Linked DNA regions of Homo sapiens: regions 1 and 2 are each linked to region 3. Evidence: fine-mapped expression QTL. A gene starts in region 3. Each other region holds a variant in brackets. All regions are shown on one strand. Distances are between the middles of the regions.

Region 1 (10,140 bases), 38 kb before region 3:
GCTCTCGCCTGTAATCCCAGCACTTTGGGAGGCCGAGGTGGGTGGATCACTTGAGGTCAGGAGTTTGAGACCAGCCTGATCAACAAGGTGAAACCCCATCTCTACTGAAAATACAAAAGTCGCCAGGCATGGTGGCACACACCTGTAATCCCAACTACTTGGGTGGCTGAGGCAGGAGAATCGCTTGAACCTGGGAAGCGGAGGTTGCAGTGAGCTGAGATCATGCCATTGCACTCCAGCGTGGGCAACGAGAGCAAAACTCCATCTCAAAAAAAAAAAAAAAAAAAGAAGATTATGATTAAGAATTAAAGAAAAGCAGAATGATGTCTCACCAAATAGATAATTATCAATAAAGAGAGAATTTTATACATATAAACTAAACAGAAGTTCTACAGTTTAGAAGTATAAGTGAAATTAAAAACTCATTAACGGGGATCAACAGCAGATTTGAGCAAGCAGAAGAAAGAACTAGTGAACACAAAATCAATTGAGATTATCCAGTTTGAGGAACAGGAAAAAAAAAGCGAAGAAAAATGAACAGAGCTTCGAAGACACCTGTGCAGCTCCATCAGGTGTCCCAACACACCTCTAAGCGGGAGTCTCAGAGGAAAAGGACACAGAGAAAGGGCAGAAAGAGTATTTTTAAAATAATGGCCAAAGACTTCGCAGATTTGATTTGAAAACATTAATCTATATATACAAGAAACTCAATTAACTTCCACTAGCATGAACCCAAAGGGATCCACACCTAAACACATCATAACAAAGTGATCTAGAACCAAAGAATCTTGAACACAGAAAGGGAGAAGCGACATACTATGTGCAAGTGAGCCTCAGTGATACCAACAGCTGATTTCTCATCAGACATCATGGAGTGAGAGGCAGCCAGATGACATACTCCAAGTGCCAGAAGAAAGACTGTCAGCACCTGTTACTCTACTTCAAAACCATGTGGCCACATATGCCTTTCCTCAATATCCAACAAAACCAAACGACATTGAAATTATAATGATAGAGAAATTAAGACATCCCCAGATAAACAAAAACAGAAAATCTGTCGCTAGAAGACTTGCCTTACAAGAAATGCTGATGAAATACAGAACACTAGATAGTAACTTACATCCTCACGCTGCAACCATGTGAATGGAGTTTTGTTCTTCTAATTGACTGTTACCAGTAAGTAAGAGTCTATCTATTTTTGTGTGTTCATCTTATATTCAACAATCTTGCTGGATATTAGTTCTACTAGTCTATCTGCAGATTTTCTGGAAAATTTTTTTTTTAAGAGATGGGGTCTCACCCTGCTGCCTGGGATGGAGTACAGTGGCATAATCATAGCTCACTGCAGCCTCCAACTACTGGGCTCAGGCAATCCTCCTGTCTCAGCCTCCCAAAGTGCTGGGATTATAAGCATGAGTCACTGTGGTCAGCCTTGGATATTCTATGTAGATAATTATACCATCTGGAAATAACAATTTAGATTTTTCTCTTTCCAATTCTTATGTCCATTGTTTCTTTTTTTTTTTCTTATCACATTATGCCAGCTAGGAGCCCTAGCATACCGAGCAGAAGTGCTAATAGCATCCTCGTCCTTTTCTCTTCAACACAGATGCTTCCACTAAGTATCACGTCCTTAATTTTTACCAGAAGAAAGCCTTCTATTTCTGGTTTGTGGAGTTTTTAAATATATATCATGAATGGGATTCGCATCTGACTGTATGCTGTTGCTGCATGTAACAGATGATCTCTATTTTCCCTTTTATCAGACAATGCAGTCATTTTTCTAATGTTAAATCATCCATGTGTTCTTTCATACAGGGTTTTTAAAATCTGTAAAATCCCTGTGATGGGAGCTTTTTGATAACCTTCCCAGATCCTTCCATTGTTACTGATCTGATTCTGTTCTCTGTTCTTGAGTCAGTTTTGGTAACTGAATTTTCTGGGGTGGGGAGAGGAACCCCACTGCAGTGGCCATCGCACCCCCGGACCTGGTGCAGCCTGTCCACATGCACGTCACAGTGCAGTCCCCTTAGCAGCTCAAAGATGCATTCCAAGCTCTTCTGGCATCTATTGCTACTAATGAGAGATCTGTTGTCAAATTATCATCCCTTCATGCTTAGCCAGTCATTTCTCTCTAGCAGCTCTACACGTTTCTCTGCCTTTGATGTCCTCCAGTGTCATGATGACCTATCTATGTGTGGATACATCACACCCAAGACTCACAAAACTTAGGGGATAAAACATTAGATATCACCAAAACACTGCACCCTGAGCCCTTCCACTCAGTAGAAATAACGCCCTTATTTTGAAGTTGTTTACCACTCTCATAAATGTTTTTATTCCTTTAGTAGATATATATCAATGTTTCCCATGCTTAAAATTGTATCTAGATAGTATCATTCTACGTAGATCCTTCTGTAATTTCCTTTTTTCTCCATTTGATTTGATCCATTTTCACTGCTCTCTGTAACACTTCATTGAGTAAATCTATTGCAATTCATTTATTCATTCTATTGATGAACATTTAGGTTGTTTCTGGCTTTTCTTACTCTAACAGTGCAACAACAAATATTTTGTTTTGTTTTGTTTTGAGACAGAGTCTTGCTCCGTCACCCAGGCTGGAGTGCAGTGGTGGGATCTTGGCTCACTGCAACTTCCACCTCACAGGCTCAAGTGATTCTCTTGCCTCAGCCTCCTGAGTAGCTGGGACTACAGGCATGCGCCACCATGCCTAGCTAATGTTTTTTGTATTTTTAGTAGAGATGAGGTTTCACCATATTGGCCAGGCTGGTCTCAAACTCCTGACCTTAAGTGATCTGCCTGCCTCAGCCTCCCAAATACAACAAATATTTTGTATACACTTTCTTGGGCATCTACTAGGGTATACACCTAGGACCATATCTTCTAGCTTACCAGAAATGCCCACCATAAGCTTTACCCATGTACATGGCTTCTGAGGAAGTGAACACATCCTTTCACTCTACCTCACTCACAGTTATAGCACCATTTTTATTTTTGCTAATTTGATGGTTTAATTTGCAAGCCCTTAAATTACTAGTAAGGTTGAACACCTATTTATATTTATTGGCTATTTTGGGTTTCCTCTTCTCTGAACTGCCAGGTCATATACTTTGCCCATTTATTTACTGGACTGATTTGCATATTTATTCAAGAAACCCATCTTTATATTTTGTGCATTGTAAATATCTTTCCTGCAAAAAGCTTTTCTTAGACAATGATGAAAGAATTCTGATATGTAGCATGTCTTAATATATACAGTTATATTCTATATTTTTTTTTTGAGACACAGTTTCACTCTTGTTGCCCAGGCTGGAGTGCAATGGCACAATCTCGGCTCACCGCAACCTCTGCCTCCTGGATTCAAGAGATTCTCCTGCCTCAGCCTCCCGAGTAGCTGGGACTACAGGCATGCACCATGCCTGGCTAATTTTTTATTTGCAGTAGAGATGCAGTTTCTCCATGTTGGTCAGGCTGGTCTTGAACTCCCAACCTCAGGTGATCTGCCCACCTTGGCCTCCCAAAGTGCTGGGATTATAGGCATGAGCCACCGCGCCTGGCCGTCATATTCTATATTTTCTACTAACAATGTTAAAGGTTTTTCTTTCATATATAGGTTCTTATTAACTCCCACCCCCACCTCCCACCTCCTAGAATTGATTTTGTGTGAGGCAGAGATCTAATTTTATCTTTCCTCATATATGGATAACTAATTGCCCTGGCACAATTTATAGGTGTATGTAAATCTCATTTATAATGCCTTCAAACTGCCATATATGCATGTTTAAAGATCTCAATTTTATTTCATTGGTTAGTCTACACTTAGGCCAATTAACACATTGTCTTAATGGTCACAGCTTTGTAATATATCTTGATATCTGATGGATAATTTCCCTTGCTTGTTATTCTACTTCAAAATTGTTTGACCACATATGCCTTTCTTCAATTCTGGAAAATTCTCAGCCATTATCTTTTCAACTATTCTACTCAAACATTCTCTAAAGTCCTTCCTTCTGGATTTCCTAATGGGCATTCTCATTCTTTCCTCTATGACTCCTAATTACACTTTTATACTATCCATCTTTTTATCTCTCTTGCTGTGCTTGGGGGATTTATCCAGCTCTATCTTCTAATTCACTAATTCTGTCTTTAACTGTGTCTAATCTGATGACTTTTTAAAAAAACTTCAATGAACATATCATGCACTTTTAGTTCTTTTTAAAAAAACCTTCCAATTTTTTTTCAAACTGTCTTCCTTTCTTACTATGGCTCTATTTCTTCTTTAATCATTTTATAAAATAACTACAGGATACTTCAGAGACATGGCAGGCTTGGTTGCAGAACACTGCAATAAAGTGAGTCACACAAATTTTTTGGTTTCTCAGTGCATATACAAGTTTTGTTTACAATATGCTTGTAGTCTATTAAGTGTGCAACAACATTCTGCCTAAAAATATGTACACACCTTAATTTAAAAATACTTTGTTGTTTTAAAATGCTGACACAGAAGCATGAGATGAGGATATGCTTTTGGGACAATGGCACCAAACAGACTTGTTCAATGCAAGGTTGCCACAAATCTTCAATGTGTAAAAACCACAGTACCTTCAAAGCACAATAAAGTGAAGTGCAATAAAATGAGTTGTGCCCGTACTTTATATCCACCTTCAGGTTCTTCAATTATTTCAGATTGTTAGAGACTTTGATTCTACTGTTTATTTCTTGACCCCTCTTCTCACCATGGTGGTAGATTTGTTTATGTGCTTATTTTTCTAGTGTGATCTTATCCTCCGTGGGGGTTGTTTTATCTCCAAATCTCCTACACACTGGGTGGTGGAGGCATGCCTACAGGACAGTTCTGCACCTGCTGCCACCCAAGGCCTTCAGGACTTCAATGGGCTGCAACTGTTTTTATGGCAGGGCTTCTACTTTTGGTTCCTGTATGACTGAGATAAAATAAACTTGGAGCCCATACCCATGCATGGCCTGGTATTGTAATTTCCAGTCCCCTTTTAGGGTACAATCAGATCTTCAGGCTCTAAACTTTATGCAAGGATCCAAATTCTAGCTCCCACACCTTTGTTAGGCCAAAACCACATCTATCTCTGGACGTGAGCATTCCAGTTCCCAGCCCTGGGTGCAATCTAGGACCAAACCCAACAAGTACCCAGACCCAGGAACGGCCACTAAAGAGTGTGTTGGTCCCAACGGCACTACTTTTGTTTTCTCTCTTCGCCTATTAC[G/A]TGATCAGCTGTGTGTTTTTTTTTTATCAGAGTCTACCTTGAGTCTCTGCAGCAGGAGGGGGACACATCTGTGTTGGTTTTATCTAACATGTTTGTAGGAAGTCTAAATTGAACTTGTTTCTTTTTTCTTCTAGTCATCTGAAGCCCCTCAGCTCCTTCAGTGCCAGAAAATGACCTAAATAACAGTTAAAAATTTTTTTAAAGGTAGTTTTTCAATATCCATATTCCAGAGAAAGTACTCACTGTCAGCTACTGCTAGATGCTAAATCTGAAGATTTTGTCAGTGGTCTATTCATACCCATCTATTCTGGGATTCGTATTTGGCTATACTGACACAGCCAGACTCTTCCATTCCCAGCTTATTCCCTCACAGTGTGAGTAAATCAGCCCTGTGTCTTAGCCAAGAGCTTCTCACTGTGTCCGGGGATGAAGTCCACAAAAACCCGCACTGTCACTGCCACAGTTCTCATAGGGTGTTCGAGCCTGACGCTGGGCCGCCAGTCTTGGGGAGTGATGCCGGCATGCTGACTGCAAACACACTGATCAGCCAAAAAGAGCAGAAAGCAGAGGGGGCTCCAAGCAGAGTGCTCAGGCCCCTGCCTCCCCATCAACCACGGTGCATGGCAGTCCAATGGCTTAGCCCCTGGGGACCTCACTTTCCTTATCTGTAAATTGACAGGGTTAGACCAATGAACTCCAGGATCCTTGACAAACCTGGGGGTAGAAATGCATGGAGCACAACTTGATTCTTACAGAATGATCAATGAAGTTCCCGTTGATCCCTCCATGATTGTGTTTTCTTCTCTCAGGACAGAAGAAGAAAGAACTGACAAGGATGCTTGCTATCAGCTGTGGCCGAGACAGGACACAAAGAGCAGGGCACTGCGCATCGATCTCTGTTCATCGATATCAGAACGTTACATTTCCATCTTTGGTCCCGTCCCCAGCTTGACACTCGGACCCGCCCTAGCAAGCACAGGCAGTGTTCTCAGCCGTCACTGCAGGCACCAGAGGAGGGCAGAGATCACTGGGTTCCAAGGCTTCCTGTTCTAGTGCAGTATTTATAGATGATGTAGGTGTAGAAAGCAATGACCAATAATGTACAAATATGTAAACAAAATAAACAGAAATACTTTAAAGGTAACCCATTTGGAGATAAAAAGAAATACAAAGAAAAAATGCATCCATTTAGAATCAGAATAATCATACTTTGGCTCCTCCTGGTGTCCCTACAAGGGAAAACTGAACCAAAACAATAGGTTTGGACCAAACACCTCCCTTCCCCTGCCCTCAATTTCTACTCCTACGTTGGCTGACTCCACACACACAGACATGCACACACACTACATATGTACACAGACACACACATGCACACACACCATATATACCACACACACAAATGTTGTCAGGCAATAGATTTCAATGTCAAAAAGTGAATAATACGGAGGCTTATTAAGACTGCTCCTTTGCTATTTGCCCTCAATGAAAAAAAAAAGAAAAAAAGATAAGGCTAATGACAATGCTGGTATCCAGAATCAACGTGGGGAGCGGAGACTCCATGGCACCAGGAAACACCATGTTTTGCATGCTGGCTTTTCAGTGGTAACTCCCTACCCGTTTGAGTAATAAAAACCAATAACCACAGATAAAAGGCAGCGAAGGAGCATTAGCGATGGGCAACATTGAAGGGCCTGACTGTATTTTTAACTTTCATGTCCAGGCTCTCGGGACTCATGTGGCTTATCACCAGGATCAGCCCTGCCAGCACTCTGGAGTGCCAAGCTTGCGGACTACTGACTGAGCCCTTGCAGGGGACAATACAGGCCCGGAGACCTCTGTTAGAAACAGCAACTTTCCTCCCCAGGAGAATCTGTCCATTCATTAGCTGATTAGCGCTGGTAAGAAAACAGAAACCAATCTAGGTATATTTCAAACAGAGGGACTGTAACAAGATTTGGCTACACAAATGATGGAAGAGATGAGAAGCCAAACGGGGGAGCTGATATGGTTCGGCTCTGTGTCCCCACCCAAATCTCATCTGGAATTATACTCCACACATGTTGGAAGGGAGCTGGTGGGAGGTGACTGGATCATGGGGGCGGACTTCCCCTTGCTGTTCTCGTGATAGTGAGTTCTCATGAGATCTGGTTGTTTGAAAGTGCATAGCACTTCCCCTCTGGCGCTCTCTCTCTCTCCTGCTGCCATGGTAAGGCATGCTTGCTTCCCCTTCACCTTCCACCAGGATTGTAAGTTTCCTGAGGCCTCCCAGCCATGCTTCCTGTACAGCCTGTGGAACTGTGAGTCAACTAGATCTCTTTTCTTTATAAATTATCCAGTCTCAGGTAGTTTTTGTGTGTGTATGTGTGTGTTTTTTGTTTGTTTGTTTGTTTTTTTTTTTGGAAATGATGGAGTCTCATTCTGTCACTCAGGCTGGAGTGCAATGGCGCAATCTTGGCTCAATGCAACCTCCACCTCCCAGGTTCAAGCGATTTTCCTGCCTCATTCTCCCAAGCTGGAATTACAGGCACCAGGTAGTTCTTTATAGCGATGTGAAAATGGACTACTACAGGAGCCAAACACTCACCAGGAGGACAAAGGGAGGAGGAGGTGGACCTCGCAAGAGATGGGCCCAGAGGGACTACTCTGCAGGAGCTATGTACTGCGGGAGGGCTAGAGAGAGAGAGAAATGCTCTGGCCTCCTCCTCCTTCTCCCCCACATTCCTGTGTCCCACCAATGCCTCACGTTGGCTGGATTCTCCCAGAAGTCAGAAGCAAAGGAGTCTGGGAAACAGTCTCCACAACACAGAGGAGGGGCAGACAAAGGAGGTCGGAGCTGAGAAAAAAACAGGCAACAGGCTGACCAGTGACCCAGTAAGATCTGAGGGTGGCCCCTTCTCCAGAGGATTCCAGCACTGAGAGGCTACAAAACGTCAGAGACCAGAGACCACTAGGAAAACACGGTGCTGAGGAAATATCATCATATCTCCCCTCAACCAATATCCTAAATCCTTTCTACAGTTCTCTGCCTTATAAGCCTTCCTCCCCTTTTCATGTACCTTCTTTTGATTATTTTGGAGACCTCTGGCAGACCCCTAAGGTTTCATTTAATTGCTCTGAATTTGCAAGGAGCAGCTTCATTTCCATTTCACACTTGGTTACCGTGTGGCCTGTGCACACGCAAGCCGCGCGATCCGGGAATGGAAGCCTGCAGCCTAGGTGACTGTCCAGCATGGGAGCCATTGGTGGCAGGAAAGGAAGCCTCCTAGCCATGGCGATCATCCTCTACGAGACTTGCAGCCCCAGACAGCACATGACAGGGAGAGCAAGCAGCCCGACCCTGGGCAGGAGCGGACGCCCTGATGCTGCAAGACTGGGTCCCACCACATTCATTTCGATCATCAGTAACATGAGCAGGGTGATTCAGGGCTACGAGGTGACGGTCCTAAATAATAATGTACAGCAGGAGATAAACCCTAACAGTAATTACTATAAGAAACCACCTCAGTCACTCCTGAAATAGTAACCATTGTAACAATGGTTACAATACGCCAGAATGAGTCAACAGAAATAGACCGAAATGCAAACTTGGAAAATGAGGTTGAAGAGGTCTACCGAGGAAGTCCTTGCATATGAGAAAATGTCAAAACCCTGTATGTGTGAGAAACAACTCAATCATAAACATAAGGAAAAGCTTAGGAACAGAAGGACCACCAAGCTCAGACGGCTATACTGAGAATTCAGAGCAGAACAGATCAGATTAGCTGACATCCTACGAAGGTCAAAAATACACTAGAGAATTCAGGATGCAAGGGAGCTTACTGGAGAACAGCCACCAAATAAACTGAGAATCACATGTAAGTTTCCCATTAGGAATTCCACACAAACTACCCCTCACATCACCTTGGCTTCTCTCTGACCAAGAGAACCATTCTGAGCTGCCTACGGGCATCATGGGAGAGTGGGCAGGCCCACGTGTAAGCAGGCATTTGTGAATGGAACTGCAAGTTTAATAAAGTCTTCTGAAATTTGGAATTGTGCCCCATTGGTGATTTATTGTTAAGCACGACTCCCAGGGATCTTGCATCTCTAAAAATACTATTTGCTTTTTATTTAACACTGAACCTTTTGATGTTTTATAATACAAAAATAGTGTCTTATTATTTTAAAAGCTTAGGAGAGAAACTAGCCATATTATTAGAAGAAGAAGATATATGCAGCTATAGTCTGTTCAAATATCAAGAGGTGTGACTTTTCAAATTCACATTTCAATCTTTATTTACATTAGACTTTCAGAAGTAGTGGGTGTAAATATTAAAACGCCCAAGCCTGGGTGAAATTTTATTGAGAATAACTACAAATAAAAGGAAACTGATTTTTTAAAGTCAGTTTCTGAAATTTAGATGAAAAGAATATTGAGTATTAACAAAAAAATGATATTTACATATCAATGAAGGTTTTCTGCTCATAGATTCATTTCCTACGAAACATAACAGAGGCAAGCTTGGGGAATTACAAAGAAAGGAAAAACCCTAATCAAATAGGTACTGTTGTTCAAACAGAATATTAGCCAAAATGATCCAATCAGTTGCTTGAACTAAATTTTTTTTTTCTTTAAGCCATTCATGCCAGAACACAAGCTCTCAAAGCAGTAAGAATCTGTACTACATTCCAAGTGTTTGCTTCCAACAGATGGGGGGATGTGAAAGATACATTCCATGGAAATGGGGTGGGGACAAAGAAGGCACCGGTCAGTCATCGGCAAACAAGGAATGCAACCCCAATGGAGGCATAGTTCTCAAAGTAAGCATTATTCGTTTGTATTCTAGGGTATGTTTAACAGTTACATGAATCAACATAAGCATACTAAATTCAAGTTGCT
Region 2 (10,140 bases), 65 kb before region 3:
ATACATACCCAAATATGCACTTGTGTACACACGTGCACACCCACACATGCACACTATGAACACACAGCTACACATTCATGTGCACACCCATACATACACACACAGACAACCCCAGGCAGAGCTCTGTGGGCTTCATGTGGGAAGAAGGGAATGATTATTACTTTCTGATTCAGGGCTAGACTGTTTAGGCTAAATCAGAAAATGTGCATAGAGTTATCACGTACATGGAACGATCATTCTGCAAACGTTAACCACTTTCACGCCGTTTGTTAGCTAACTTAACTGACAAAGGAAACATATTAGAAGAATAGAAAATCTGCTAATTTGATTAAACTTACATTCTTAGAAGAGTTTGTGAATGGATAAATATGACGAAGTTCCTTTGGCTCACTTCCTCAGAAGAAACATTGTGATCGATTTCACCATCGTTTTCTCAAACGGTCTCAGTCCTGGACAATTAGCTGGCGTGTTTGCTGGTTGGAGCGCGGAAGCCCTTTCTGTGCTGCCCAAGGCAGCAAGCTCAGCCCCTCGGATGGGAGACCTCCCTCAGCTCTGGCCCACCCCTCCTCGCGGGCATCACTCTACTGTTAACACCATGGGCATCTGAAATCAGTTGTTTGCTGTCAGGTTTGGATCCACCTCTCCGTCCTTTGATCCAGAGCTGCCGAAAGCCACATACTGTTTTCATCACCTCAGCCAACGTCTGGAGAGCCTATATTCGTATAGCCAGTGTGAGAAAGGTGGAAACTGAAAACACAAGTAGGGAAAGCAACGCTTGGAAAGGAGGTGGGCCGTCACGGCTTGGAGGAAACTTGAAAGTGAACTGAATATCAGACTCTATTAAGGAATTATGGATCATTTTGTTAAATGTGTGTATCAGTCGTGGCAAAATACCCTTATCTGTTAAAGACACATACTGAGGTATTCAAGGTGGAATTACGGATTACCTTAATACACTCCAGGAAAAAACTCGGAGACAGTGCGGAAGCAAGCCTGCAAAACGCTGATGCTCACTGCAGCTGGGTGAGGGGCGTGGAGGCTCACTGGCCTAGCATGCTTGAGTATGTTTGAATTTTCCATAACAATATGTTTTTTAAAATAAGAAAGTTAAGCAGCTGATATAATTAAAACACCAACAGATGAGACAATGCTGCCGTAAGTCTCAAGGTTACCGCAGGGAATGCTTCATAACCTAAGTGTGTTTTCCCAAGGAGTTATACGGCAAAAAATTGATCATCATTACTTATAAACATGCTGGTATTCCTGGAAAATTGAAGAGAACGCGTTAACATATTAAAGCAAATTGGAAAGGTTATCAGCTGGCTAGACACAAAACACACCAAATCTAACAGTCCTCCTAAATATCAGCCATAACCCACTGGAAAGTATGATTTTTACAAGATGCCCATTACCAAGACGGGCAGGTGGGAAAAAGCCCCGCCCCTCTGTACTGTGCTTCTCTCTCTGGGCAGCTCAGCAACTTTGCTCGTTCCAGCAGCAGAAAGTCTCTCCCCAACCCCTCTGTCAGCCCTGGTCTTCTTCTCCCCTCCTCAACCATGGCACTCACGCCCAGACCAAGGGGCAGGTTGGGGGAACAAACCCCATAAGCACCCCCAGGTGCCCTGCTCTCCCGCTGAGTCAGACATGCCTTTTCCTGTGCCTGATACCCAGATGTTCTCCCCGAGGGGTGTGGTCTTCCAGAAGTTGAAGCATCTCCACCCCACTGTTCCAGAGGTGCTTATGCCCTGCCTTGGCATAACAAGGGCACCGTCCATCCTGACAGTTAAACCAAAATGAACGAGCAGATGCCCCAGCAATGTGGAGCTCCGCCTCTTGCAGGTGGAACCTACTTGTAGCTCGTCATGATGGGAGGCTTTTTAGTTTCTGCACATTACAGAGGTGACACTCTTAGGGTTGGGGCTCAGCCTGGGCACCTGGACAGTGCCCAGGGGCCTTTGCAGACCATGGCAGGGAGAGAGAGAGAGAGAGAGAGAAAGAGAGAGAGGGAGAGGGAGGAAGGGAGAGGGAGAGAGAGATGGTAAAGAAGGAGAAGACTTTAGCTTGGGACAGCTGGTTTCCTCCAGTCTGACCAGGCCAACATGTGAACCTGGTCAGGAAAGCTTGCAAGGCTGTGGGGATGCTGTCTGGGGACTGCCCCTGAGGAGCCACCCACTGGTGCACTGTGATAGGAGAAGCCTTGGCGGGAAAAGTGACCGAGACATTTGAGAACAGGCTGAGCCTGATGGGGGCCGAGCTGGGAACTGGAGGTGAGATCCCCTGTGACTTAAGAAATAGGATATGCGGATGTGGCTGGAGGAGGAAAGTGGAGAGGTCTTGGCTGCACCCCATGACGCCTCCTCCAGCCCAGCCCAGCCTGGGCTTCCCTTCACTCCCAGGCTTGCTTTTCTTCCTTCCTTCCACATCTACCTGCCAGGTAGGCTCTGCTCCAGCCAGGGCTGCCAGGGAGCCAGGGGCTGGGAACCCCGGGTGTGGTCTTTGAGGAAGGGGGTTTCATTGAGGTGAGCTGGTCACTCTGCTAAGGGCTCGGAAAGGCATCACGCTGGGCTACAAAGTGCACCCAGCTGCAGATGAGCAAAGTCAGGGAAAGGGATGCTTGGCTCTTAAATCCCATTTGGCTTCTGATGGAAGGGGTGCGTGCAAGTTGCCAGCATGATGGAAGGGAAATCATGAACCAGATGACCCGGTGGATCCATTTGTCAACGGACCACTTGTCAGCCTTGGGAAGTCCAGACTTCCTCTGGGGATGTACCCTTGCCACCTGTGTACCCCAGAAAGGGCTTCCTATGGCTTGTGGGACAAGAGGTGCAAACAGAGAGGCCATTACTACCAACAGCAATGCCCAGCCCTGCGCATAGGTGTGCGGATTGCAAGCAGGGTCCTTACTCAGTGAGGTGAAGACCTAGGCTGGAGCTCAGGTCTACCGGCCCATCACTGGCATGTGGCTGATGCTCCAGTGCCTGCCACACCCCGATGCCTCCCTACCGGCCCCTCCTGCCCTGTCCCCCCGTCCCCTCTGTTCTCTGGGGTCCAGGGGCCCCCACTGCCTGTGGAGGTGAACAAAACCCACCCCATGGAGAAAGTTTAGGACCTGACCCAGCGTGGGTCTGGCTTTCCTGAGGGCAAGGAACAGCTTTGTCCCAGTACTGGCCACCTGGCGCCTCCAAATGGCTTTTTCTTGCAGGGCAGGCAGGCTCTGGGCAGGCACCTCGCCAGGCATTGCGCCCTCTGCCTGCAGGTCGGCGGGGCCTGCTCTTCCCGGCTCCTGAAATGCATTTCCTTCCCGACTCCGAGGTCCTGCTTCCAGAACCTTTGGCAACAGAAAAGGAAACCCGCACAGGCGTCAAATGTCTTCGGACTGAAACTAGCAGGTGACGAACCATACAGCCCCAACTCTGCTGCCCCGCCCACAGTGCCCCGCAGACAGTGGCAGCAACGCCCCGCCCCGCAGCACTGCAGCTGCACCCCCAGGACGCCCCCCGCGAGCGCCACGCCCCAAAACCGCGAGGCGCCCCTGGGAGCTGCCTCCAGACCTTCGTTCCGGGAACGTTTCTGTTCTCTGGCATTTTCGTTTGAAGCAGAGATGTCAAAAAATAAATGCAGCCAAGGTGTCAATAGGCTGCCATGGTATGTCCAGCCACACCCCACACAACTGGACCTGAAGTCACGACTCAGAAAGTCACAGCCACGTCCCGCCACGCGGGCGGGAAAACGTGGAAGCAAATGCGATTGCCTCGACTCGAGGCTCAGCTAAGGAGCAGTCAGGTCCGTGTCACCTGTGGCTTCCACTCCCAGGAAGTCTGATGGCTCCGGTCGTGGCTGTTGTGGGGAATCCGTCGTGTGGAGAACGTGCCTGCCACGTGCGGGGGAGAAAGGAGCCACCTTCCGAGTACGCGACCTCACCTGCCGGGCGTGAGGTGCTGGACTGAGACCAGGGTGGGGCTCTGGGCATGGGAGGTGGGGCTGGGCGTGGGGCACGTGGCACAGAGGGATGCGCGTGGTAGGGCTCAGGGCAGACGGAACGTGGAACAGGGAGTGGCTCAGGGCATGGGGATGGGGCGGGGCGTGGGACGGGGCGTGGCGTGGGGCACAGGAAGGGGCAGGGCACGAGGAGTGGGGCGAGAGGTGCTAAGTGGGGCCTGAGTGGGGCGCGGGGCGTGGCGCGGAGTGGGGTGGAGCGGGTGGGGCGAGGCTCGGCGTGGGACACGAGGGACGGGACGCGGGGGCACGGCAATGGGTGGCGCAGGGCGCACTCTCGGGCTCCCTGCAGGTGGGCAGCCCCACCTGTGCACGCCGCTCCCCCGCCCAGCGCCTCCCCCGGGACCTGCTCCAGAAGCGCCAGTTGCGGGACCCCACACGGAAGGCAGTCTTCGGTGGTTCTCACTGCAATTCCTCTTAATTATGTGTGACATAAAAAGACCACCTACAGACGAGACAATGCTGCCGTAAGAGTCTCGGGGTTACTGCAGGGAATTCTTCATAACCGAAGTGTGTTTTCCCCGAGGAGTTATGCTACCATTTGATTTAATTTTTAATTTTTACATTTTAATCAAAAATAGATCAAATGGTGGTGGTCTCTCCGGGGAAACACACTTCAGATAGGAAGCCGGCCATGCTCCTTTAAATATGGAAACTGCCGTCTCCGCGCTGCGGGCTGGGCGTGTCCTTTCTGGGAGGGGCCTTGGGCCATGCACCTGAGGCCACCAGCTCGCCCACGCCGCCCGCTCACCTGCACGCGGAGGTTCATTTAATCCGTGCGTCTATGCAGCGCCTAGGCCTAACTCTCCCAGGAGGCGCCAGTCACGTTCCCCAGGGGGAGCTCCCTGACCTTTCTGGGGGTGACAGAGTGGGGAAGTGGGCAGTGTGAGCCCACCCCTGAGGCGTGTGTGTGTAAGCGTGCACACTTGCTTTTTAACGTTCTGTATTCTAGTCAACAGACAGTACGGTTGTTCAGTTGCAAGGAAAGGCGTTCACACTATAATCCAGGTGTTTCACTGGAAGAGATGTGTCTCGCATCCACAGTGGTCAGCTGGCTTGTCACATCACGGCACTGAGGTTGGTCTAGGCTCCTGCCAATATCCAGATGGGCTCCAAAAGCAGCCACCCAATCCCCTGTGTGAGCCTGGCGGATGCACTGGGTGCATTCTGCAGCTGCTCTGGACCTGGTGTTATCATACAGGGGAGCCTGGTGTGGACCCCATGGGGTTGCCGTGGGGATGAAGTTTCCATGGAGTAAAGTGCTACAG[T/C]ACTGGCTGCAGGTAGGAAGTGAAGCTATTTTGTTCCTGTTGTTATTGCAAGGGAAATAAAGGCAGTCTGCTCCCTCGCTCTCTCTCAGCCCCAGCATCAGCACAGGGCTTGGGGCGGGAGGGTCTGTGTAAGGCACTGAGCGGGGCTGCGTACTTGGTAGGGAAGCCTCCAGAGCCCACCTTCCCTGAGGCTGCCTTAATGCCCTGATGATGCCCACAGCTCTCAACCTGCAGCCGCTTTCTCAAATTCCTGGATTCCTGCACTAAGTAACTTACTAAGGCCCCCCGCACTCCAGGCTTCCTGCGTCCAGAGCTGGTCAGACCCGGACGAAGCCAGCTGAGCTGAATGATGAGGGGTCCACCTTCTCTTTCACTCCTGTCCCTAAACCCATGGACAGGTGACACCCAGGCCACGTGACCCTAGCTCCCTGAGACATACTTTCACATCCTTCTATTTTAACATGGTGGCCTTGGCCTCTAGTGCCCATAAGAGATGCCCAAACCCAGGTTTCTCCTCCTCCCATCAATGTCATTTCCATAAAGACCCACTGGAAACATTTTTTTTTTTCGGATTTATCACCAGGAAAGTAAGGTGGCTTCCCCTAAAGCACAGATGTGCTTCCTTTCTGGAGGCCAGCTGTTTTTGCCTTTGAAGCCCAGATAAAAATCGAGTGCTCCAGTCTGGCAGCCTGACTTTTGGTCCAAGTGTCTCCCCCTCAATACTATTTGCAATTTGTCTCCTGCCTCTGCCTCTGTGGCTCATCACAGGACTTCATCCCAGTCATGGGGCATCACAGGCCCCCTATCATCTTGGTGCCCTGGAGCCCAGTAAGCAGACAGATGGAAGCTATCAGGGAGGAGGAGGCAGGAAGGGGAGGACAGCAGGCTTGCCAGCCCTCTGTGGATATATGACGGCTGTCTGGGGGTCAGCTGTCCAGCTCACCCCTACAGCTGCAGGACAGCAGGCCCAGGGGAAAGATGACCTGGCTGTGGTCCCTCCCTGGACCCACCTGCCTTGACAGAGGGTAAGAGCCCCAGTCTGTGGGTGCCCCTCCTACTGGCCAGGTTGGCTGAGAGTAGGTTCCCTCTCTCCTGGGGCGCCCAATCTCTGCCATCCCCCTCCTTAGCCCCATCATTACCTAGCCTGTGACTGGCTGGATACACACTCGCCTAAGTCCCCAGTACCCTCTGCTGGGACACCAGGGTCCCTGCAAGTCCCCAACTCACGTCACAGGGCAAGTGGATTCAGCTGTTCCAGATCCATGGGAGCCCAAAGAATTGAGACGTGCAGGGACCTCGGTCACTTTTAGGCTCCAAGGGCCACCTACTAGCCCCACGGCTACAAAAGCTCCAGATACTCTGGTGCACCAAGTCTTCCTGTAGACCACGCAATGCAGAGGAAGCCATGAGCTTGAGAGACATCTTCTTTTTAAGAGTCAGAATCTCCTCTGTCTCCCAGGCTGGAGTGGAGTGGTATAACCATGGCTCACTGTCATCTTGAACTCCTGGGCTCAAACAATCCTCCCGCCTCAGTCCCCCAAGCAGCTAGGAGTACAGACATGCGCCACCATACCCAGTTAGTTTTATTTATTTATTCTTAGACATAGGGTCTCGCTATATTGCCCAGGCTGGTTTCCAACTCCTGGTCTCAGAGGATCCTCCTACCTCGGCCTCCCCAGTCACTGGGGTTACAGATGTGAGCCACCGTGCCCAGCTCCATTTTCTTAATATAACCAAATGCAGACGCTCTGAAATGTGCAAGGCCGCAGCTGGCCCCTAGGACTCCGGGGCTCCTTCTCTCAGCACTATCCCAGGTTTACCCCTGAGAGACAAGCCCCAGCTTGTGCTCCTTGCCAGCCCACTGCCCGGGCTTCCTTTGCAATGTCAGGTGCAGCACCTGGGCTCATGCGTTTGCACCTCCTATGTTGGATCTCCATCCACAGGGAAATCATCCAGTGGCGATCATGGAGACAGCAGGCATCTTTGAGCAATGGGGGCTCGGGCAAGCTCCCCCTCTGCCACTGGAGGGAACACTGTGCAGGGGCCCCTCGCCACCCTGTTGTGTTGTGACTCTGTGGCTCATTTATTCAGAGCCGGAGCTCCAAACGACTGATTCCAAGTGGAAAACATGCCCCGGGTGCCATCCAGGGTGGGACAAGCATGGTGTGCGGCAGACCGGGCAGCCCCTGGGCCAGCCAGATCGCCTCCACCTGGAGGGGCCCTTGTTGAACCAGCCCCGGGAAGATGCTTGAGTACCCTTTGGTCCTGGGCAGGGGCTTGGGGACCGGAGCCCCCACTCAGACCGGTGGGTGCTCAAAGGTGGGTCCTGATAAGGGAACCTACAGGGGTTTTGGGTTCACGCTGTGGCCAACTCACGCTGACTTCGCAGTCACTTTGTTGTCGCTGCTACCAGTGACAGTTCTTTTGCAGACAACATGTAGAAAGAGGCGCTTTGAGTCCTGAGGGAGACCATTCCACCGGCAGGACTGAGTCTGGGTTTTTAGAATTGGAAGACCTCACCAAAATAACAATTAGGGAGATTTAAAAGTCAAAGGAAATGACTTAAATATTAAATGAAAAATTCAAGATGTTAATTTGAATTTCTATCCTTGTAGATGGTATTGCTACAGAATCAAAGGAGAGAAAGAGGAAAATACACCGATGGCTGTAAAACCATCGGTGATGAAATTGAGTGGTTTAAAATCTCATCTCCAAGTGTTCTGTGTTTTCAGGGCCTCGACAGTGTGCATGGATAGCTTTTATACCCAGGAGAAAATCATCAGCCATAATGGAAAAACGGGAGGCGGGGCAGGATTCAAAAACAGAAAACAGGTGGTGGGACCCGCCTGGGCGAGACATTCCTGGCAGGCTGCAGGCGCATGACTGAGAAGCAGGAATGGGCCACGCTCACACCCAAACTTCCACTCTCGCTGGCCCCGGCCAAGTGCAGAATTGCGGCTGTGGCTCCCCAAGTTCTGAGGCTCATTAAGAATAGGTTCAGCTGGGTGCAGTGGCTCACGCCTGCAATCCCAGCACTTTGGGAAGCCAAGGCGGGAGGATCACTTGAGCCCAGGAGTTCAAGACCAGCCTGAGCAACATGGCTGAACAACAACAAAAATTAACCAGACGTGGCAGCGTGCGCCTGTGGTCCCAGCTACATGGGAGGTCAAAGCTGCAGTGAGCCCTGGTTGCTCCACCGCACTCCAGCCTAGATAACGGAGCAAGACCCTGTCCATTCATTCATACATAAATAAAATAATCAGAATCATCTTAGTCACAAAATAAAGGCAAAATGGAAAATAACGGGTAGTAAGGCCTTAAAACAATGTGTTTTTTTAAAGAAACTTGAACATCTATACATGCCGTTTCTACCTCCATTACCATAGGGAGCATCTGAGTTCATTTCACATAAACAAAGAAGCATGCATTCTCTCTCAGATGCTATTTAAGAAATTATTCTAAGAGATTGTTTTGAATATAAAGAGCATGTGGCAACCGAATCAGCTCTTAACACGGGATGTAAACCCTGGCGCCTCTCCGTCTGGGGTCAGTTCCTGCTGGAGCACTGACCTCAGCCATAGGCAGGTGTGTGGCCTTGGCCAGTGCCCCGACTTCCTTGTCTCCAACATGGATGATGGTCCCATCTCAGGCTGTGGAGGGACCACTGAGCTGTTACGTGCAAAACACGCCGGCCCGTGCGTGGACAGGTGCAGCGCTGGCTGTGATTACAGTCCTTAGATTCCACTGCTAAGCCAACTTGCCATTTATTCAAGGTTCATGTTTGAAACACACAAAAAATGGAAAACTACAATACATAGCGAACATCCATGTTCTCACCAGAATTAACTGTTAACACTTGGTCATACTTGCTTTTGCTTTTGTGATACTTAGCAAACGGTGACCGTTGTGCTCACCTTCCTTCAGTGGCTGTTGAGTCTCATCTCCCTCTCCTACCCCCGCCTCATTAAGAGTCTCATCTCCCTCTCCTACCCCCGCCTCATTAAGAGTCTCATCTCCCTCTCCTACCCCCGCCTCATTAAGAGTCTCATCTCCCTCTCCCGCCCCCACCTAGTTAAGAGTCTCATCTCCCTCTCCCGCCCCCACCTAGTTAAGAGTCTCATCTCCCTCTCCCGCCCCCACCTAGTTAAGAGTCTCATCTCCCTCTCCCGCCCCCGCCTCATTAAGAGTCTCATCTCCCTCTCCTACCCCCGCCTCATTAAGAGTCTCATCTCCCTCTCCTACCCCTGCCTCATTAAGAGTCTCATCTCCCTCTCCCGCCCCCACCTAGTTAAGAGTCTCATCTCCCTCTCCCGCCCCCACCTAGTTAAGAGTCTCATCTCCCTCTCTCGCCCCCACCTAGTTAAGAGTCTCATCTCCCTCTCCCGCCCCCACCTAGTTAAGAGTCTCATCTCCCTCTCCCGCCCCCACCTAGTTAAGAGTCTCATCTCCCTCTCTCGCCCCCACCTAGTTAAGAGTCTCATCTCCCTCTCTCGCCCCCACCTAGTTAAGAGTCTCATCTCCCTCTCCCGCCCCCACCTAGTTAAGAGTCTCATCTCCCTCTCCTACCCCCGCCTCATTAAGAGTCTCATCTCCCTCTCCTACCCCTGCCTCATTAAGAGTCTCATCTCCCTCTCCCGCCCCCACCTAGTTAAGAGTCTCATCTCCCTCTCCCGCCCCCACCTAGTTAAGAGTCTCATCTCCCTCTCCTACCCCCGCCTCATTAAGAGTCTCATCTCCCTCTCCTACCCCTGCCTCATTAAGAGTCTCATCTCCCTCTCCCGCCCCCACCTAGTTAAGAGTCTCATCTCCCTCTCTCGCCCCCACCTAGTTAAGAGTCTCATCTCCCTCTCCCGCCCCCACCTCAGGAGGCCACCAC
Region 3 (10,140 bases):
AACAAAATGAATTGATGGCGGATATTTCAAAAACGATACAGCCTCTAGCAGATGAGTCAGAATCCCTCAAATCACAAGTAGCTGAAGCCAAAATGATCTTCAAGAGATTTAAAATGACTGAGAAACAACTGAAGATAGCAATAAAAGATGCTTTGAATGAAAACTCTCACCTTCAGGAAAGCCAGAAACAGCTTTTGCAAGAAGCTGAAGTATGGAACGAACAAGTGAATGAACTTAATAAACAGAAAATAACATTTGAAGACTCCAAAGTACATGCAGAACAAGTTCTAAATGATAAAGAAAATCACATCAAGACTCTGACTGAACATTTGCTAAAGATGAAAGATTGGGCTGCTAGGCTTAGAGAAGACGTAACGGATGATGATAACTTAGAAGTGAACAGTGAATCAGAAGATGGTGCTTACTTAGATGATCCTCTAAAAGGAGCTCTGAAGAAACTGATTCATGCTACTAAGTTAAATGCTTCTTTAAAAACCTTAGAAGGAGAAAGAAACCAAATTTATATCCAGTTACCTGAAATTGATAAAACAAAGGAAGAGCTTACAGAGCATATTAAAAATCTTCGGACTGAACAAGCATCTTTGCAGTCAGAAAACACACATTTTGAAAGTGAGAATCAGAAGCTTCAACAGAAACTTAAAGTAATGACTGAATTATATCAAGAAAATGAAATGAAACTCTACAGGAAATTAACAGTAGAGGAAAATAGCCGGTTAGAGAAAGAAGAGAAACTTTCTAAGGTAGACAAAAAGATCAGCCATGCCACTAAAGAGCTGGAGACCTACAGACAGCGAGCCAAAGATCTTGAAGAAGAATTGGAGAGAACTATTCATTATTATCAACGGCAGATTATTTCCCATGAGAAAAAGGCACATCATAACTGGTTGGCAGCTTGGGCTGCTGAAAGAAACCTCAATGATTTAAGGAAAGAAAATGCTCACAACAGACAAAAATTAGCTGAAACAGAGTATAAAATAAAACTTCTAAAAAAAGATCCTTATGTACTTGATGTTCCAAATACAGCATTTGGCAGAGAGCATTCCCCATATGGTCCCTCATCATTGGGTCGGCCTTCATCTGAAACGAGAGCTTTTCTCTCTCCCGCAACTCTGTTGGAGGGTCCACTCAGACTCTCACCTTTGCCTCCAGGGGGGGAAGGAAGAGGCTCAAGAGGCCCAGGGAATCCTCTGGACCATCAGATTACCAAGGAAAGAGGAGAATCAAGCTGTGAAAGGTTAACCGATCCTCACAGGTCTCCTTCTGACACTGGGTCCCTGTCACTTCCGAGGGAACAGGACCGTAGGATGATGTTTCCTCCACCAGCGCAATCATATCTTGATTCAGCTCTTCCTCCACAAAGGCAAGACAGATTTTATTCTAACTCTGGTGGACTGTCTGGACCAGCAGAACTCAGAAGTTTTAATATGCCTCCTTTGGATAAAATGGATGGGTCAATGCCTTCAGAAATGGAATCCAGTAGAAATGACACCAAAGATGATCTTGGTAATTTAAATATCCCTGATTCATCTCTCCCTGCTGAAAATGCAGCAACTGGCCCTCGCTTTGTTCCTCCACCTCTTGCCCTAATCAGAGGTCCACTGTTTCCAGTGGATACAAGGGGCCCGTTCATGAGAAGAGCACCTCCTTTCCCCCCACCTCCTCCAGGAACCAGGTTTGGAGCTTCTCGAGATTATTTTCCACCAGGGGATTTCCCAGGTCCACCACATGCTCCGTTTGCAATGAGAAATGTCTATCCACCGAGGGGTTTTCCTCCTTACCCTCCCCCAAGACCTGGATTTTTCCCCCGACCCCCACATTCTGAAGGTAGAAGTGAGTTCCCTTCAGGGCTGATTCCGCCTTCAAATGAGCCTGCTACGGAACATCCAAAACCGCAGCAAGATACCTGGCAATATTTTTGCTCTCTTCAAAAGTAATTCTGACTGATCTCATTTCAAGTAACTGCTGTTACTTAAGTGATTACACTTTTGCTCAAATTGAAACTTAATGGAATTATAATTCTTAGGATAGTATTTTGTAAATAAGGATGATTTAAATATGAATCTTATAAGTAAATTATTTCCATTGTATTTTATTCGATAGTATAACTATTTTAATTTGATTAATCCACTATTATAGAAACAACAGTGGGAGTTTTACGTATGTAATCTTGCAGGTGGGGAGGCTTTAAATTCTAAAGGCTGTGTCTTTATGCCAACAACTGTATTTACTGTAGGTGTAGACAAATGTGAAAGTAACTTTATGCTTAAATAAATTTTAGTTGATTAAAGAAATTCAGATAATCCACATGATAACCATTCAATCACTAGCAGTATTTGCCACGTCTCCACTAAACGTCTCAAAGTCGCAGAAAACACAGCATGGCCTAACAGGAGCTCTTCATTGCCTCCACACCACTCTTCTCTCAAGGAGCAGCAGTACTGCCCTCGCAGGGCTCAAGTCAACCCCTACAACACCCTGGACTCCACTCTTCACATTACCCTGCCACTGCCACTCCATCAGTGAGACTGTCTGCTCTCCCTCTACACAGTCACGTCTCTCTAGTGTCACCACCCCACTGCCCTCTCTTGTGCAAACCTCTGCCACTTCTCCTCTGACACACTACTGTAGCCACAAGCCTTGCCTCCCTGCCTGCACCCTGATCACACCTTTCATTTTCCAGGGCAGTGAAGTAAGGTCTCAACACATCAGCATAATCATGTCACTTTTCTGTTTGTTTTTCTGCCATCTGGTAGCACAGTAGCAGTGAGCCACCCTTGGCTATGCAGAGGAGGGTGACACCCAGGGGATGGTGTGAGGGGAAGGAACTTAGGTCCCCGCATATCCCCTGATCTGGGTACCACCAGCCCTACGCCTATATTTAGTGACCCTGGGCTCCACCCCACTGGACTGCTCACGTCCATGCTGTTCTGTGCAGGAGAATCAAACTTCCATCTTGTTAGGGCCAGCGTGCTTTGAAGGCTCTTGGTTACAAAAGCACCCTAACCTGCTATATTACTGTACTATACTATTACTATACTACATTACTATACCATATTATTACTATATTACTGGGGTAACCTGCACCCTAGTAATATAACAATTGGTACCTGGAGGAGGGGTGCGGCTGTGATAGAAACCTAAGTGGTACTGGCTTCACGGCCAGGCAGTGAGTAGTGAGGAAAGAGATGGTGCAGGGTAGAAAGCTAGTCATTCCCGCTACGCAGTAAAGACATCTAAAAAAATGCTGCCTGTATTAACTGGGAAGACGGATCCTGCACTTACCAAGCCTGTGTAGCTCTAGAAGAAAAAAAAAAGCAAATATGCGGTATGTTGGCTGCTCACTGCTGCCCCTAGCGAGGAACTTTGAAATAAACGAGGTTAAGTAAGAACTGGCCAATTTGCAAGCAGAGGTGGAAGATAAAATACAGGAATGCCAAGCAGCTCTGTCTTCCAGCTCCAATCCTGCAGTACTTCTTTCAGTGCCCCTAAGACGCTAAGCTCCTTCCTCCAACACTGTTTTTTGTCACCTCCCATCCTGCCTACCCCCGGTCATCCTTCAAGTCTCACACATACCTGACTTACCCACGCACCCTGGGATCTTGTGCAAGTCTCCCCATTACCATCTCATCTTACCCTCTGCTCATCAGTTAATGGACTCAGCCCAAGAAGCACTAACACGCTCAATGCCGGGTAATTTTCTGCGCGTGTTCGCTCCCCACGTACTCGTCCCCCAACACCCAGCCCTGGGCCTGGCACGTGGCAGGCGCTCAGTGAACGAGACTCAGGAACAGTCAGGTGTAGACGGCAGGAGAAGACATGACACGGATACCAAGCACCCGAGGTCCTGCAATGAGTCTCGGCCCATGTTTTAGGGAGCCTGGGTCTGGAGCCCCAGTGAGCGTGTGGGTCAGGAAGGTGCCCGAGCTCCGCGCCCGACCGCGCAGGCGCGAAACCGGGAGAGCGGCGTCACAACCCCGCCCTAACAGGCCACGCCCATCACTGGCCACGCCCTCCCAGGGACGTACGCGAGCGTGCGAGTGTCTTGGGCCAGGCCTCCTCACAGGCAGGGCCGCGCCGGCAAAAACGAGGCGCGGTGGGAACCCGCCCAGGGGCCATCCGCCCTCCCGTCCCTAACGCCCAGGCCCCGGGGGCTCACCACGTCCCCCGGAACCTGCAGATCCTCCGCCCTCCGCTGTCGCCAGCGGCCGAGCGCTAAGCTGTCCATGCAGCCCCAGGGTCAAACCCTCCCGGCATCTCAGGCCTGGCCGAGGCCCGCGCACCACGCCCCCTTCCGCACAAGGCCCTGGGGAGCCAATAAGGAGAGGGAGGGGCGGGACGCCGCGGGAAGCGCGAGAGCACCAAGGCGAGGACCGCAGGCAGGAGTAGCAGAGACCAGAGTCTTCTGAGACTATTGGGATGCTGTGGGCGTTGTCCGTCTGCCCCAAGTCATTACTTCGCAGAGAGGTCCCTGCATATCTCTGCTTGTCGCTTCTCCCTTCACAGGAGCAGCCGTGGGGCTCTAAAGAAAGCATTCTTTCAGGATCCCGCCAAACTTTTGACAACACCCCGTGGATCGGCTGGAGGAGCGCCCGCCTCCTCTGTCTTATGATTGGTTGTTAGGCCTCGTGGGGAGCCGTCTCCCTGTGGCTGGTTGGCTAATAGATGGCGCAGCGGGTCAATTAGCTTGAGCGAGACAGCGGGTGTTTCTGGGAGTTGTGGTCCGCAGGGCTGCCTCGCTTCCGGGTGGGAGCTGCTGTTGCCGCGGTGGGAAGACGCAGAGCTTTCAGGCCAGCCCCGCGCGGCTCACGGCTTTTGTGGCTGGTGGCTGGTGGCTGCTGGTTGGGAGGCCCCGGAAGGACTTCTACTCCTCCGTAGGCTGGAGGGCACTAGGAGGTCGCAGGTGCTGAGCTGCCGGGGCCTTTGGGCTGTGCTGAAGGGGAAAAGCGCAGCCACTGTCGGGAGTGTGTGCTGTGGAGGCAGTTGCCGCGGTGATGTTCGCTCCGCCTGGCCCCTGCCGGGGATTCAGCCAACCAACCCTCAACAGCCGGCGGCGGCTCAGTCTCTGGCCCGGCGCGGTGCTGAGCACCACTGAGCCCTCATCTTAGGGCACCGAGGCCCGGACTCCTGCAGCCGCATGTCCAGGCCCCTCCTGCCTTAGCACGGAGCTCCCTTGACTGCTCCAAACAGCCCAGACTGGCGCCTTTTTTGGATAAATTAAAACGGGGCCAATCCGTTGCCAGCGATTGGCTAACGATGGGTACACGACCTAGTACGGGCCAGGGAGAAGTAAGCGAGGTCTGTTGAGGCAGAGTTTCGGGAAAGATCTTCTAGTTAAAAGGGGAGTTGGGTGGGTGGGGGCTGTTTTCTTCCTGTTGTCCTTGCCCAGTGTAAGTTTCCTGGAGCTGCAGCAGCCTTTTTGTCACCATGAGGGCAGCTGGTGGGAACCCTAGGAAAGCAGGAAATCACCTAGAGCCGGAACAGCCTGAGCCTCTGAACCAACCCACAGCTGACTACCCGTCACTTTGTCGTGTCTCTGTGATTTGAGTCCATCATTCTGCTGCAGTTGAAGGTATCCTTTGACAAAGCCCTGTTCTTAACCATTATGGTGAAACGCATGAATCCCTCTTCGGGCTATTTGCTGCATGATCCTCAGCAAATTAAATAGTTAATCTCCCTCAGTTTCCTCATTTATAAAGGATAGGATGATAAAGCATAGAGATCGTGAGGATTACATGAGGCATTTACCTAGAAGATACTTAGAACAATGCTGGACACAAACTAAGTACTTAACAAATGTAACATTTCTCCTATTAGTTAGTACTCCTAAGACTAATTATGCCACCACTGATTCACAGTCCCTTATCAAAAACCTTTCAGGCCAGATGTGTTTGTGAAATTCAGAATTTTTTGAATGTTTAAAAAAGGTGAGATATATTGTATGCCCCCGTAGTCAAACAATGTTTCTATAGCAGAAATGTGTGAGTATTCACAAATATTCACCCTAAGTGGGATATATAAAGGTTGTAAATAGGGCCAGGCACAGTGGCTCATGCTTGTAATCCCAGTACTTTGGAAGGCCAAAGCGGGAGGATTGCTTGAACCCAGGAGTTTGAGACCAGCCTCGGCAACACAGTGAGACCCCCGTCTCTACAAAATAAAAATAACAAAATTAGCCGGGCACTATGGCGCCCACCTGTAGTACCAGCTACTCAGAAGGCTGAGGTGGGAAGATTGCTTGGGCCTGGAAGGTTGAGGCTGCAGTGAGTTGGCTGTGATCACACCACAGCACTCCAGCCTGGCCAATAGAGTGAGACCCTGTCTCAAATAAAATAAATACAATAAATAAATAAAGGTTGTAAATAGTCTCATATCAGTTCAAATGAGTTTACTCCAAGCGTGGGGAAAAACTAATTTGGAGGACTTTCTGCATTTCAGAATTGAAAATAAGGTATGTTGTAGGCCTCTCAAAATGCTTGTCTTGCAGTTTAGATTAGATGACTTGCTTTGTTACCCACTTTTGATTCGCTGGCCTTTATACTGATGGCTGCTTTTCAGATGTGTATAAGAACAAAATTTCAACAAATTTAGTTTCAAAGATCTGATTGGTTTTTAATAGCATTGCATGCACCAGGCAGTCTACAAGATAGAAAGGTGCTCCAATGAGGACCGAGTGGGTGAGTTTGACAGGCAGGAAAAAGTGGAGGAAAGCAGGAAGAATGAACAAATAGCAGATCAGTCATTTCAAGGTTACTTTCCTTATAGAGGTGTAGACGAAATCTTGGTGTAATGTAATTTGGCTTTCATCCCTCTCCTGATTTCTCAGAAGATCTTACAAGTAAGCAACCCAGGTTTCAGTTTGGTAGCATGAATCCTTAGCATTTAGTGACTCCAGTTTTGGTCTGCTGTCTTTCTTAAATGGATGCATGAGGCAACCATTGGGTACTGGGGGGGGGACTGCTTAGCTTAGGAATGAGATACAGCAATAGGTATATTTAGAAGGATGCAGTTTAGCTTAGCACAGTATTTACCAAGCATCAGTCACTTGGGTACTAACTGCAAGATGTATGCTAAACCTCTCCTATTATTTACATAGTATATTTATTTAAATTCTCAATATCTTAAGTTTGAAAAACTTTAAAAATAATATGTGACATCTATAAAGTGATGGTTTGAATGCTCACTATTTTAATATGTTAAATAGATTAATTATTAGAAGAAAATATGGGAGGTCAGGCACAGTGACTTATGCCTGTAATCCCAGCACTTTGGAAGGCCAAGACAGGCGGATTGTCTGAGGCCAGGAGTTCAAGACCAGCTGGCCAACATGGCAAAACCCTGTCTCTGCTAAAAATACAAAAATTAGCCAGGCATGATGGCGCATGCCTGTAATCCCAGCTTTTTGGGAGGCCAAGGCAGGAGAATTGCTTAAACCCTAGAGGCGCAGGTTGCAGTGAGTCAAGATCACACCGCTGCACTCCAGGCCTAGGCGACAAAACAAAACTCTATCTCAAAAAAAAGAAAGAAAGAAAAATTGGCCAGGCACAGTGGCTCCAGCCTGTAATCCCAGCACTTTGGGAGGCCAAGGCAGGTGGATCACAAGGTCAGGAGATGGAGACCAGCCTTGCCACCATGGTGAAACCCTGTCTCTACTAAAATACAAAAAATTAACCAGGCATGGTGGTGGCGGCACGTGCCTGTAGTCCCAGCTACTCGGGAGGCTGAGGCAGGAGAATCTCTTGAACCTGGGAACCTGGGAGGCAGAGGTTGCAGTAAGCCGAGACCACGCCACTGCACTCCAGCCTGGGTGACAGAGTGAGACTCCGTCTCAAAAAAAAAAAAAAAAAAAAAGTAAAGAAAATATGGGAAAACTTCATGATATTGGATTCTTGCATATGACACCAAAAGCACAGTCAACAAAAGAAAAAAATAATTTGGACTATATCAAAATTTAAAATTTTGTACATCAAAGGACACTATTAATCCAGTGAAAAGGCAACCCAGGAAATGGAGAAAATATTTTCAAATCGCATATCTGATAAGGAGTTAATATCCAGATTATATAAAGAATACCTGGCTGGGTGCAGTGGCTCATTCCTATAATCCCAGCACTTTGGGAAGCCGAGGTGGGTGGATCACGAGGTCAGGAGATCGAGACCATCCTGGCCAATATGGTGAAACCTCATCTCTACTAAAAATACAAAAATTAGTCGGGCGTGGTGGTGTGTGCCTGTAGTCCCAGCTACTCAGGAGGCTGAGGCAGGAGAATTGCTTAAACCTGAGAGGCGGAGGTTGCAGTGAGCCAAGATTGCGCCACTACACTCCAGCTTGGATGACAGAGCGAGACTCCATCTCAAAAAAAAAAAAAAAAAAAAAAGAATGCCTACAACTCAACAACAACAACAAAAAACCTGATTGAAAACATGGACAAATACCAGCATGGGCAAGACAGCAAGACCCTGTCTCTCCAAAAAGCAAAAAATTAGCCTCTTGCTAGAGAGGCTGAGGTGGAAGGATCACTTGAGTTCAGGAGTTTGAGGCTGCAGTGAACCATGATCTCACCACTGTACTCTATCTGAGGTAACAAAGTGAGACCCTGTCTCAAAAAAGAAACAAAACAGAAAAATAGACAAATAACTTGAATAGACAGTTCTCAAAAGAAGATATACAAATAGCCAATAAGCACATGAAGATAATATCATCAGTTATTAGGGAAATGCTAATCAAACCCGTATTGAGATACCACTTCACACCCATTAGGATGGCTATTATCAAAAAGAAAAAAACAGTGACCAGGCACTGTGGCTTATGCCTGTAATCCCAGCACTTTGGGAGGCTGAGGCAGGCAGATCACTTGAGGCCAGGAGTTCAAGACCTGGCCAACATGGTGAAACCCTGTCTCTACTAAAAATACAAAAATTAGTCAGGTGTGGTGGTGCAGGCCTGTAATCCCAGCTACTCGGGAAGCTGAAGCAGGAGAATCGCTTGAACTCAGGAGGCAGAGGTTGCAGTGAGCCAAGATCGTGCCACTGCACTCCAGCCTGGGTGACACAGCGAGACTCCATCTCAAAAAAAAAGCAGCCGGGCATGGTGGGTGGCTCATGGCTGAAAACTCAGAGCTTCATGAGGCTGAGCTGAGCGGATCACTTGAGTGTAGGAGTTTGAGACCAGCCTGGGCAGCATGGCAAGACCTCATCTCTACAAAAAAACAGAAATACAAAAATTAACCAGGTATGGTGGCTCCCGCCTGTAGTCCCACCTACTCAGGAGGCTGAGAGGTGGGCAGATTGCCTGGAAGGTCGAGGCTGCAAGTGAGCTGAAATTGTGCCACTGCACTCCTCCAACGTGGGCAACAGATGAAGACCCCCTCTCAAAAAAAAAAAGAGAAAAAGAAAATGACAAGTTTTGGCTAGGGTGTGGAGAAATTGAAACCCTTGTGCATGGCTGGTGGGAATGTAAAATGCTGTAGCCACTGTTGAAAACAGTGTGGTGTTTTTTCAAAAAATTAAAAATAAAATTACCGTGTAATCCAAAATTCCACTTCTGGGAATATACACAAAATAACTGAAGGCAGGGACTCAGAACAGACATTTGTACACCCGTGTTCATAGCAGCATTATTCCCAATAGCCAAAAGTTGGAAGCAACCCAAATGTCCATCAGTGGATAAATAAAATGTGGTCTGTATGTGTATATATATAATATTCTACTGTATATATATATATATATATATATGGTAGAATAATACACAGCCTTAAAAAGGAAGGGAATTTTGGCATATTTTACAACACGGATGAACCTTGAAGATGTAATGCTAAGTGAAATAAGCTAATCACAAAGAGTCCAAACTATGATTCCACTTATATGAGCTGCCTAGAATAGTGAAAGGTGTGGAGACAGAAAGTTGAATGGTGATTGTCAGGGCCTTGGGAGGAGGAGGAGGAATGGGAAGGTACTGTTAAGTGAGTACAGAGCTTTCGCTTGGGAAGATGAAAACATTCTGGAGCTGAATGATGGTGATGTTTGCACAACATTGTGAATGTACTTAACACTACTAAAGCATACACCTAAATATAGTTAAGGTGGCAAACTTCATCTTATGTATATTTTACCACAATAAAAA

The links.
Region 1: its variant is fine-mapped to the expression of C10orf143 in whole blood (TOPMed, PIP above 0.99). The same link has a PIP of 0.9 or more in atrial appendage, caudate, fibroblasts, pancreas, stomach and subcutaneous fat.
Region 2: its variant is fine-mapped to the expression of C10orf143 in whole blood (TOPMed, PIP above 0.99).

What each region holds. Positions count from the first base shown.
Region 1 is chr10:130,068,344-130,078,483 of GRCh38, forward strand. All of the region lies in intron 3 of C10orf143 (chromosome 10 open reading frame 143), which reads right to left. Among named protein-coding and RNA genes, the nearest start is that of C10orf143, 37 kb to the right of the region's middle. The variant G/A (reference allele first, on the strand shown) is at 5,262.
Region 2 is chr10:130,042,025-130,052,164 of GRCh38, forward strand. It overlaps a transcript of C10orf143 not described here. Among named protein-coding and RNA genes, the nearest start is that of C10orf143, 64 kb to the right of the region's middle. RefSeq lists enhancers at 2,349-2,848, 6,962-7,846. The variant T/C (reference allele first, on the strand shown) is at 5,265.
Region 3 is chr10:130,106,527-130,116,666 of GRCh38, forward strand. It overlaps C10orf143 (chromosome 10 open reading frame 143), which reads right to left and starts at 4,304. Exons shown (of 4, transcript NM_001355042.2): 1 at 4,178-4,304. The coding sequence starts at 4,246. It overlaps LOC102724883 (a long non-coding RNA gene), which reads left to right and starts at 4,767. Exons shown (of 3, transcript NR_188169.1): 1 at 4,767-5,590; 2 at 6,792-6,856. It also overlaps the pseudogene CTAGE7P. RefSeq lists enhancers at 2,509-2,768, 3,359-3,468, 3,629-3,808, 4,669-4,998, 5,479-5,608 and a silencer at 3,999-4,378.